2 separate regions of the Homo sapiens genome follow, and region 2 is linked to region 1. The links come from fine-mapping of genetic effects on gene expression. A gene starts in region 1. The other region holds a variant in brackets. All regions are shown on one strand. Distances are from middle to middle. Region 1 holds the start of VAT1 (vesicle amine transport 1). Region 2 has its middle 46 kb from the start of LINC00910.

Region 1 (5,311 bases):
GCTGTGTACCCACGCGTGCACGCAGGTGTACCAGTGCGGACAAGAGCTGGGGCAGCCATCCACTTCCTGAACACGGCGGGAGAGAGATGCTAAGGGGAAGGAGGGAGCCTCTTTGGTTTTCTCTCCCGCGTCCGCCTATGTCCTGGCAGGGGGTCTTGGGGAAATGGGAGGGTGAACCCCAGCACACCCACCCGGACGGTGGTGACATCATAGCTTTCCGTCCCCATGGCAACGGGCAGCCGGGTCTCCGGTTACATTGACTTAACCGCCGGCCTAGACTAGCAGAGAAGCGTGGACTGAGTTCCTCCAGCCAAGCACTGGGTGGAAAGTTTTGGGGGAGCTGCGTCCTCTGGTGGATGCTTGGGGACAAGGAGATAAGGAAGAGAAAGAACCAACCGCCAGAGTTGCTCTGCTGGAGCCAGAGCTAAACCCAAAAGTCAGGCTTGATTAAGAGTCTGACAATAGGCCGGGCGCGGTGGCTCACGCCTGTAATACCAGCACTTTGGGAGGCCGAGGCGGGCGGATCAAGAGGTCAGGAGATCGAGACTATCATCCTGGCTAACACGGTGAAACCCGCACGGTGGGCGCCTGTAATCCCAGCTACTCAGGAGGCTGAGGCAGGAGAATGGCGTGAACCCGGGAGGCGGAGCTTGCAGTGAGCCGAGATTGCCTCACTGCACTCCAGCTTGTGCAATAGAGTTTCGAAAAAAAAAAAGTGCTTTTTTATATCGAGGCAATTCGAGTCAATAATATATGCTGCAAATAATTCTGTAAAGATAACTAGAAGCTGGGCGCGGTGGCTCACGCCTGTAAACTCAGCACTTTGGGAGGCCAAGGCTTGCTTGCGTGCAGGAGTTTGAGGCCATCCTGGGCAACATTAGCGAGACCCTCTCTCTAGAAAAAAAAATCAAAACTTAGCTAGGTTTGGCCACTCTAGGCACGCTGCCTATGGGGTAGCCCTGCTCTGCAAAGAGCAGTAAAACATAAAGTTAGCCGGGCGTGGTGACACATGCCTGTGGTCCCAGCTATTCAGGAGGCTGAGGTGGGAGGATTGCTTGAAGCCGGGAGTTTGAGGCTGTAGGGAGCTGTGATCGCCCCACCTCGCTCAGCCTGGGTGACAGAGTGAGACCCTGTATCAAAAAAATAAAAATATAAATATAACTAGAGCACGCAGCATCATCACTATGTTACAGAAGGGAAAATGAGGAACAGAACGTTAACACCAAAGTCAGAAAGTTTTAAAGGCTTGGTCTCCATGCTTCTACTTTGCCACTGCAAGACCACAGTGAATTAAGTCTCATCCCTGCCTGGGTTAGATGTCAGAGCCTGAGACACAATGTAGTTGGACTCCAGTCCACAGGTGGCTGACTCCAAATCTGATATGAGTTAACTCCAAATCTGATGTAAGTTCAAGTTTTGGGACTGTTCCTTAACTTTTTTTTTTTTTTTTTGAGACGGAGTCTCGCTCTGTAGCCCAGGCTGGAGTGCAGTGGCGCGATCTCGACTCACTGCAAGCTCTGCCTCCTGGGTTCATGCCATTCTCCTGCCTCAGCCTCCCAGGTAGCTGGGACTACAGGCGCCTGCCACCACGCCTGGCTAATTTTTTGTATTTTTTAGTAGAGACGGGGTTTCACCGTGTTAGCCAGGTGAATCTCCTGACCTCGTAATCTGCCCGCCTCGGCCTCCCAAAGTGCTGGGATTACAGGCGTGAGACACCGCGCCCGGCCTTTTTTTTTTTCGAGATGGAGTCTCCCTCTGTAGCCCAGGCTGGAGTGCAGCGGCATGATCTTGGCTAACTGCAACCTCCGCCTCCTGGGTTCAAGCAATTCTCCAGCCTCCGCCTCCCTAGTAGCTGGGACTATAGGCACCTGCCACCATGCCTGGCTAATTTTTGTAGTTTTAGTAGAGCTGGGGTTTCACCATACTGGTCAGGCTGGTCTCGAATTCCTGACCTCAGGTGATCCACCCACCCGCCTCGGCCTCCCAAAGTGTTGGGATTACAGGCGTGAGCCACGCCGCCCGGCCCTTTTTTTTTTTTTTTTTAACAGGGTCTCACTCTGTTGCCCAGACTGGAGTGTAGTGGCGCGATCTCGGCTCACCTCCGCCTCCCAGGCTCAAGCGATTCCTCTGCCTCAGCCTCCCAAGTAGCTGAGATTACAGGCGCGCGCCACTACCGCCCGGCTAACTTTTTTATTTTTAGTAAAGACGGGGGTTTCACCATGTTGGCCAGGCTGGTCTTGAACTCCTGACCTCAAATGATCCACCAGCCTCGGCCTCCCAAAGTGCTGGGATTACAGGCGTGAGCCACCGCGCCAGGCCTATCCCTTAAAATAGTTTTTAATTTGAATAAGGTTTACTATGAATAAATAAATCACAGTCGGCTTGATCCCAAGAGCACAGACGTTCCTGGTGCCCCTTTTCGTGCTCTCCCAGCTTGCGCCACTATGGCCCTGGCCCTTTAAGGCTGAGCGCGAGGCCCCGCCTCGCCCGGCGCCCCGCCCCTCCCGCTGGATCCCGCAGCCGCGGCTCTTCCCGACGCGTTCCGCCTTCCCCAGCTGTGCACTCTCCATCCAGCTGTGCGCTCTCGTCGGGAGTCCCAGCCATGTCCGACGAGAGAGAGGTAGCCGAGGCAGCGACCGGGGAAGACGCCTCTTCGCCGCCTCCGAAAACCGAGGCAGCGAGCGACCCCCAGCATCCCGCGGCCTCCGAAGGGGCCGCCGCCGCCGCCGCCTCGCCGCCACTGCTGCGCTGCCTAGTGCTCACCGGCTTTGGAGGCTACGACAAGGTGAAGCTGCAGAGCCGGCCGGCAGCGCCCCCGGCCCCTGGGCCCGGCCAGCTGACGCTGCGTCTGCGGGCCTGCGGGCTCAACTTCGCAGACCTCATGGCTAGGCAGGGGCTGTACGACCGTCTCCCGCCTCTGCCTGTCACTCCGGGCATGGAGGGCGCGGGTGTTGTGATCGCAGTGGGCGAGGGAGTCAGCGACCGCAAGGTGAGCGGGTTGCGTAGGGCAGGGCAGGGCTGCGCAGGCCACTGGGCAGTGGGGCACGAGTGGGCGAGCGCCGGGGGTGTGGCAGGGCGGGAGAAACTGGCGCGGACCTGGGTGCACGAGCGTGGAAAGCGTAGCCAAGGAACTTGTGTTTGGGGGCTCCTGGAGAGCGGCATTTATGTGGGGAGGGGAGACGAAATTATCGCCCCTTCCCCAACCATTTTTAGTTGTGGCCGCCGCCCAGAAGCTGTGCTGGTGGGGGGGAAAACAATAAGGTGCCCATGCGCATGCGCACAACCACACTACCGTCCCCACCCCCCCCCCCCCCCCCCATTAAAACCACACCTGTACCCCTACCCACCAAACACTCTCTGGGTAATTGTGGTCTGTGACTATGAGTGACGGTTAGTGCCCCCTTTCCCCGAGGGAGCTTGAGGGGCTATGTCGTCGGGGTTGGGCGGGGGCACAGCGGCCGTGCCAGAGTCCTGGTCACATGCAGCCCCGTGGTCTGTGGGGGTGTGAGGCGGCCCCTCCCAAAGCAAGGCCAAAGAGACGAGACACGCCCATCACGGAGGAGAGAGAGCCTTTGCTACCCCACCGCCACCAGCCTTACACCGCCGATCTGATTTTGGGGTGGGGGAGGCGGGATTGGGTCATCCGATCTTTGTCTTGGGCTCTGTGTCTCCCGTGACTGCAGTATCTCCTCCTCCTGTGACTCAGCCCTCAGCCTTCGGGCCACGACCCGGGGCTGCCCTTGGGAATGCCTGGGGCGGGGAGTGGAAGGGGGGACCCACCTCTGCCTTCCTCCTGCAGAGGACCCCCACTTCAGAAACCCCAGTGCCAGGGGTTTGGACTGGAACGGAGAGGTGCGGCGCCTTGAACTGGTTGGCCAAGTCTGCAGGCCTGTTTCTCCTTCTCATTTATCATTAATCTTGGCCACAACCCTGGACACCAGAGAGCTCAAAATGATCAGCTTTTTGAGAGACCTGGGATGAGGCCTCAGCACGCCATTTGTTTAGAGGTTTCTTTTTTTTTTCTTTTTCTTTTTTTTTTTTTTTTTTTTTAGACGGAGTTTCGCTCTTGTTGCCCAGGCTGGAGTGCAATGGCGCGATCTCGGCTCACCGCAACCTCTGCCTCCCGGGTTCAAGCGATTCTCCTGCCTCAGCCTCTCGAGTAGCTGGGATTACAGGCATGCGCCACCATGCCTGGCTAATTTTGTATTTTAGTAGAGATGGGTTTCTCCATGTCGGTCAGTCTGGTCTCGAACTCCCGACCTCAGGTGATCTGCCCACCTCGGCCTCCCTAAGTGCTGGGGTTACAGACATAAGCCACTGCGCTTGGCCAGGAGTTTCCTTTTTAAATCAGACCCCTCAATGAGAGGCCCCACAGATGCAGCCTCTTGCAGACCTGCCAGCCCAATTCTGGAGCCAGGTTTGTTGGATTCATCCTGTATGCAAACAGCTTCTCCTTAAGGCTTTCCTCTGAATTCAGCTCTGGCCCCACCCTCAAACTGACTTCTAAATGATCCCACTCTTGAGCAGGCGTCTAAGAGGAATATTTTCGGGAGGTAGTTGTAGTTCATGTTACTGCTGAAGGCCACCCACCTCACCTCCCCTCCATACACTTTCCGCCTGGTAAATACAGGATATCCTGTCCAGGGCAAGAATCTGATGTAAGAGCCTGGATTCTGCGGGGAGGGCCCTTCCCTCTCTCTCCCTCCTCCTCCTTCCTGGTGTCTGGGTTGGGGAGGGGTCATGGCCCTGATTTGGATGGCCTGAGGGTTAGCATGAGCCAGGGTAAGTGAGACTTGTTCTGGGTCAAATCTGGGACTGGCCATGACCCTAAATGACCAATGCACTCCTCGCAGCTCTCCTGGGTTGTTCTGTATCTGCTAGTCCTGAGTCCCTGGGTGGAGGGCTTCCGTTCTTGTTCTCCAGACCTCATCTCAGGCCAGAACTTGGAAGGAAAGACCCCAGCATGCCCTCAGTTCTCGTATTCAGTGGAGTGTGGGGGCTTGAGGACATGAAAAAGGGCGTAAGTGGCAGTCCCATCCCCCTTCCCCATGGACCCTAACTCTTGTTAATATACAGAATTCCCATCATTCCTGGCAGGGATCAAGACAGACCCAGATTGTCCCAGAACAGCACCCACACCTCCCTCTTCATGCTCTTCAGAGAGCGCAGAGAAGTCTTTTCTCCTGACGCTCCCTCCTTTTCCCTGCCCTTCCCTTGACCCCACTTGCTAAGCTGGAGAGAAAGGTTCTGTTATCTTTGTCCCCTTTCCCTCCTGCACAGAGGCTCTCGTGGGGGTGGGGGGGAAGCCTTT
Region 2 (5,374 bases), 320 kb before region 1:
GACAGGGACAACATGAACCCTACCCAGACTTTATTGCCCATCTCCAAGACGCAGCAGAAAAAGCTATCCCTGAGCCACGGCCATTGACTTGTTGTAGAACTCATGGCTTATGAACAAGCAAATCCAGATTGTCAGGTGGCTATTCGCCCTGTTAAAGGTAAAATTCCATGGGTGTGTGTGTGTGTGTGTGTGATATACTCACCTCCTACATTAAAGCCTGTGAAGGTGTGGGAGGAACTCTGCACACAGCAATGATCATGGCACAAGCCATGGCCTCTATTCGAACGCCTGGACAATTCACTGGCCAATGCTTTATATGCGGCCAGACAGGACATGCTAAAAGAAATTGTCCCCAGTGTACATGTTGCCATTCTTTTCAACCCCACCACCACCAACAACAAAAAATTTTTCAACAACAGAAAGTCCCACCTTCTACTTTATGCCCACGATGCCAAAAGATAAATCACTGAGCTGCTCAATGCCATTCGAGATTTGATATTGATGGTAATCCTTTACAGTCGCTTAACAACCAGGGAAATGGAACGAGGGGCTGGCCCCAGGCCCCTCTAAACAATGGCGCATTCCTCAACTCCCAGCCCCTGGCATCCAGCCAGATGGGTGCCTTCCCAGTCCAATCGATTCAACCTCCACCCCAATTCCCACTTCAGCAATTTGTGCCACAGGATCTAATGGCCCAGCCCCAGCAGGAATCTCAGTACAGTGTTTGTCTCCTGCCACTGCAGGCTCAGCAGCAATAGATCTCTCTTGTACCAGAGACATTTCTCTGTTGCTTGGATAGCTGCCTATTGCTGTTCCTAGAGGTGTTTTTGGTCCCTTACTGACTGGCAGTGTCAGTTTGCTACTTGGTCATTCAAGTCTAAATTTAAAAGGTGCTCAAGTACATACTGGTGTAATTGATTCTGACTATTCAGGTGAAATTCATATTGTCATTAGCTCTGCAGTCCCTTGGAATGTGGCAGCTGGGGACGGCATTGCTCAACTTCTGATACTCCCTTACATTCCTTTAGGATCCAGTTCTTGTATGAGAAACAGAGATTTTGGTAGCACAGATTATCAAGGCAAAGTGGCTTATTGGGCCAGCAAAATTTCTGACACTCATCCTGTGTGCTCTGTGCATATTCAAGGGAGGAAGTTTGAGGGAATGATTGATACGGGTGCTGATGTTTCTATTATTGCTTTACATCAATGGCCCCAACACTGGCTAAAGGAGCATATGTCCACAGCATTAGTTGGTGTTGGTGACGCTTCAGAAGTATATGCAAGCTCCACAATTTTACATTGCATGGGCCCTGAAGGACAAATGGGAACTATCTGCCCCCTCATTACACCCATTCCTGTTAACCTGTGGGGAAAAGATCTTTTATATCAATGGGGGACATAGATTTCTTTTCCACAAGGCAGTTACAGCCAGCAAAGTAAAGACATTATGACAAAAATGGGATTTGTTCAAGATATGGGCTTGGGAAAATCAGCACAAGGCATCACCGAGCCTATTATACCTACCCATAAACCAGATTCTACAGGACTTGGTTATTCTTTTTAGAAGTGGTCACTATCAAGTCTCCAGATCCCATCCCTTTGACTTGGAAAACTCAGAAACTGGTTTGGGTAGATCAGTGGCTGCTCCCAAAAAATAAGCTGGAGGCACTTCATATTTTGGTTCTTGAACAGTTAAAATTGGGTCAAACCCTCTTTTTCTCCCTGGAATTCACCTGCCTTTGTTATCCAAAAGAGGTCTGGTAAGTGGAGAATGCTTACTGATCTTAGGGCAGCAAATGCTGTCCTTCAACCTATGGGGACATTACAGCCTGGTTTGCCCTCCCCCACTATGATTCCCAAGTATTGGCCACTTATCATCATTGACCTTAAAGATTGCTTGTTTTACATTCCTCTGGCCCCTCAGGACTTTGAAAAATTTGCTTTCACAGTTCCAACCCTTAACAACATCCCTCCTGCAGCACATTACCATTGGAAAGTCCTACCTCAAGGTATGCTTAATAACTCTACTATTTGTCAATATTATGTGGGGACCATACTAAAGCCAGTAAGAGATCAGTTTCCCCAATGTTATGTCATTCATTACATGGATGATATTCTTTGTGCAGCACCTTCACGCTCTGTATTAATATCTTGTTTCTCTGCAGTACAACAAGCAGTTGCAGCAGCTGGTTTGGTTATCGCTCCAGAAAAAATTCAGACTTCTTCCCCTTATCACTATTTAGGAATGCAGCTAGAGGACAAGGTTATTAAGCCCAAAAAAGTTCAATTCAGATGAGATTCTTTAAAAACTCTAAATGATTTCCAAAAATTACTTGGAGATATTAATTGGATTCATCCCTCCTTAGGCATTCCTACATATGCTATGTCTAATCTTTTTGCAACGTTACGGGGCAATCCTGATTTACACAGCAAAAGGTCTCTGACTCCTGAGGTGGATTCTGAATTACAACTTATAGAAAAACGCATTGAACAGTCTCAGGTTACCAGAGTGAATCCACATTTACTTTTTGAAATACTAATTTTTCCTACTGAACATTCACCAACAGGACTCATTATTCAGGGACATAATTTAATTGAATGGTGTTTTCTTCCACACAGCTCTTTACGGACACTTACTATTTACTTAGATCAAATTTCTATCTTAATTGGTCAGGCTCGTTCTCGTCTCCTTCATCTTTTGGGTACAGAGCCCAAAAAAATCATTGTTCCCCTCACCCGATTACAAGTCCAACAGGCTTTTGCAACCTGCATCTCTTGGCAAGTACATTTGGCAGGTTTCCCGGGTATAACTGATAATCACTATCCTAATGTAAAATTATTTCAGTTCCTTAAACTCCTTGGATTTTGCCTAACATTACTAGAAACACCCCATTAGCTGAAGCTGCCACTGTTTTTACTGATGCTTCCTGTAATGGCCGAGCAGCATATATGGGTCCAAGAGAACATGTTCTTAACACAGGAGCTATTTCAGCACAGTGAGCTGAGCTGTTTGGTATCATGGCTGTTCTTGAATATTTCCCTGAAGCAGTTAACATTGTTTCTGATTCGGCGTATGTAGTACATGTTGCTCACAACATTGAAACTGCCTGAATCAAATTTCTGCCTGATGACAACCTACTTTTTCTTTTCCAAAGGTTTCAGTCCATACTCAGATCAAGGTCTTCTCCTTCCTACATTACTCATATTC[G/A]GGGTCACACAACCCTCCCCAGACCTCTCTTGGCAGCAAATGCCAGAGCTGATACATTACTTGCTCCCGTTTTTACATATGCAGAAAATTTTCATACTTTAACTCATGTCAATGCTGTGGGACTCTGAAAAAAGTTCCCCCTCACATGGAAACAAGCTAAAACCATTGTATGTCACTGTCCTACTTGTCAAGTGTTAATTTTACATCCACTTTCTTCAGAAGTTAACACTAGAGGACTTTCACAGAATGCTCTCTGGCAAATGGATATGACTCATTATGCTGCTTTTGGCAAGCTGTCTTTTATACATGTAACTATTGATGCTTTTTCTCATTTTGTCTGGGCCACTTGTCAAACAGGGGGAAAGTATGGCTCATGTTAAATGACACATACTTTCATGTTTCTCGGTTATGGGCTGTCCCAAGAAACTAAAAACTGACAACAGCCCCAGCTACACTAGTGCTGCTTTTAAAAAGTTCACTCAGACATGGGCAATTACTCACACAACTGGCATCCCCTATAACTCTCAAGGACAGACCTTGGTGGAACGAGCCAATAAAACACTCAAAGAGCAACTTCGGAAACAGGACACTAAAACAGAGGGATGCTGCTACCCCTTATGCTCAGTTAGTTAAATCTGGCTGCTTTTATACTGAAATTTCTTAAACCTACTAAGAAATCAACTTTTTACAACAGCAGAACAACATTTCACTGGAAATAAATTTGATCCACAAAAAGGAATGCACGTATGGTGGAAGGATGCAAAAACTAACAAATGGGAATTAGGCACTGTCGTAACATGGGGTAGGGGTTTTGCTTGTGTTTCCCCAGGAAAAGGACAACAACCTGTGTGGGTTCCCTCCCGACAACTGAAATTGCACCATAACTCCCAAGAAGAAACACTCCCAGAAACAAAAGGCAAAGACCCCTCTGAAACCAAAGAGCAAGTATCACCGCCTGACACATAAACTTCATGACCTCGACATTGAGACAAAATCTCGCCGTGTGACCTACAACACCACTCATTTAACTCCACCAACTTGGGGTCAAATAAAGGTCTTATCCCATCAACAGAAAAATCATTAAGAGAAAAATGAATCCCCAAAACGACAGGTAATATAATTCTGGCTGCCTTTATGGTAGTCAGTGCAGTGGTGAGTATACCACCAGTTTGGGCAACTCAAAATTATACCTACTGGGCATGTGTTCTTTTCCCCCTTTAATTCAGTCTGTCTCCTGGATGGACTCCTCAGTAGAAGTTTACACTAATAATAGTGCATTCATGCCGGTCCCTAATGATGATAGGTTTCCAGCTCAACCAGAATAAGAAGGTATGCACTTTAATCTGTCAATTGGCTATAAATATCCACCACTATGCACTGGGATGTCGCCTGGCTGTTTAGTTTATTCTTACCAGAATTGGATGTGGACAGTACCGTCCTTTACAAATGATTCTTATCAAGTACATAATGTGTTCAGTAGCAATTCTTTTCAACTTCTGTTAAACTTAATCCACAAGAGGAATGGTGGGTTCTGGTCACTACTAACAGCAATAAAACAAAAGGACTGCCAGACTGCCCAAAGGAATCTACAAAGGGACCTTTTCTGGTGAATTCAATTTTATGGAATAATTGTAATGCCATTATTGGCGGGATTGCTCCAGCCAGAATACGACATGCTCAGAGTTCAATTATTTGTTACAATATTAGAGGACGGATGGCAGTCCTACAGGTTGAGAGAATGGGTGTCTCCTTACCCATTCAAATGGATGAACACAGGCATTGTTCCTTCTAGACCAAAAATGATTCATCCCATTGTTACCCCAGAACATCCTGAATTATGGAAATTAGCTGCAGCTATGACAGGAATAAGGATATGGAGTGCTACCTATCAACTCTCTCCCACTAATATCAAAACACCCACATTCAACATCACCTTGATGTCTGAACAGGTGATACGTATCAGGAGCTGTGTCAAACCCCCTTACATGCTGTTGGTTGGAAATATAATTATCATTCCCAATACACAAAATATAGAATGTGATAATTGTAAGCTGTTCATGTGCATTGATGCTACTTTTAATCCCACAACAAGTATTCTATTCGTAAGGGCTAGGGAGGGGGTATGGATACCAGTTTCTTTACATCATCCATGGGAGTCTTCCCCCT

Evidence for each region. PIP is the estimated chance that this variant, and not a neighbour inherited with it, causes the effect.
Region 2: its variant is the best candidate, but not a certain one, in a credible set for the expression of VAT1 in whole blood (INTERVAL, PIP 0.58).

Annotation. Positions count from the first base shown.
Region 1 is chr17:43,019,614-43,024,924 of GRCh38, reverse strand. It overlaps VAT1 (vesicle amine transport 1), which reads left to right and starts at 2,540. Exons shown (of 6, transcript NM_006373.4): 1 at 2,540-2,989. The coding sequence starts at 2,603.
Region 2 is chr17:43,340,123-43,345,496 of GRCh38, reverse strand. No RefSeq gene overlaps it. Among named protein-coding and RNA genes, the nearest start is that of LINC00910, 46 kb to the left of the region's middle. The variant G/A (reference allele first, on the strand shown) is at 3,209.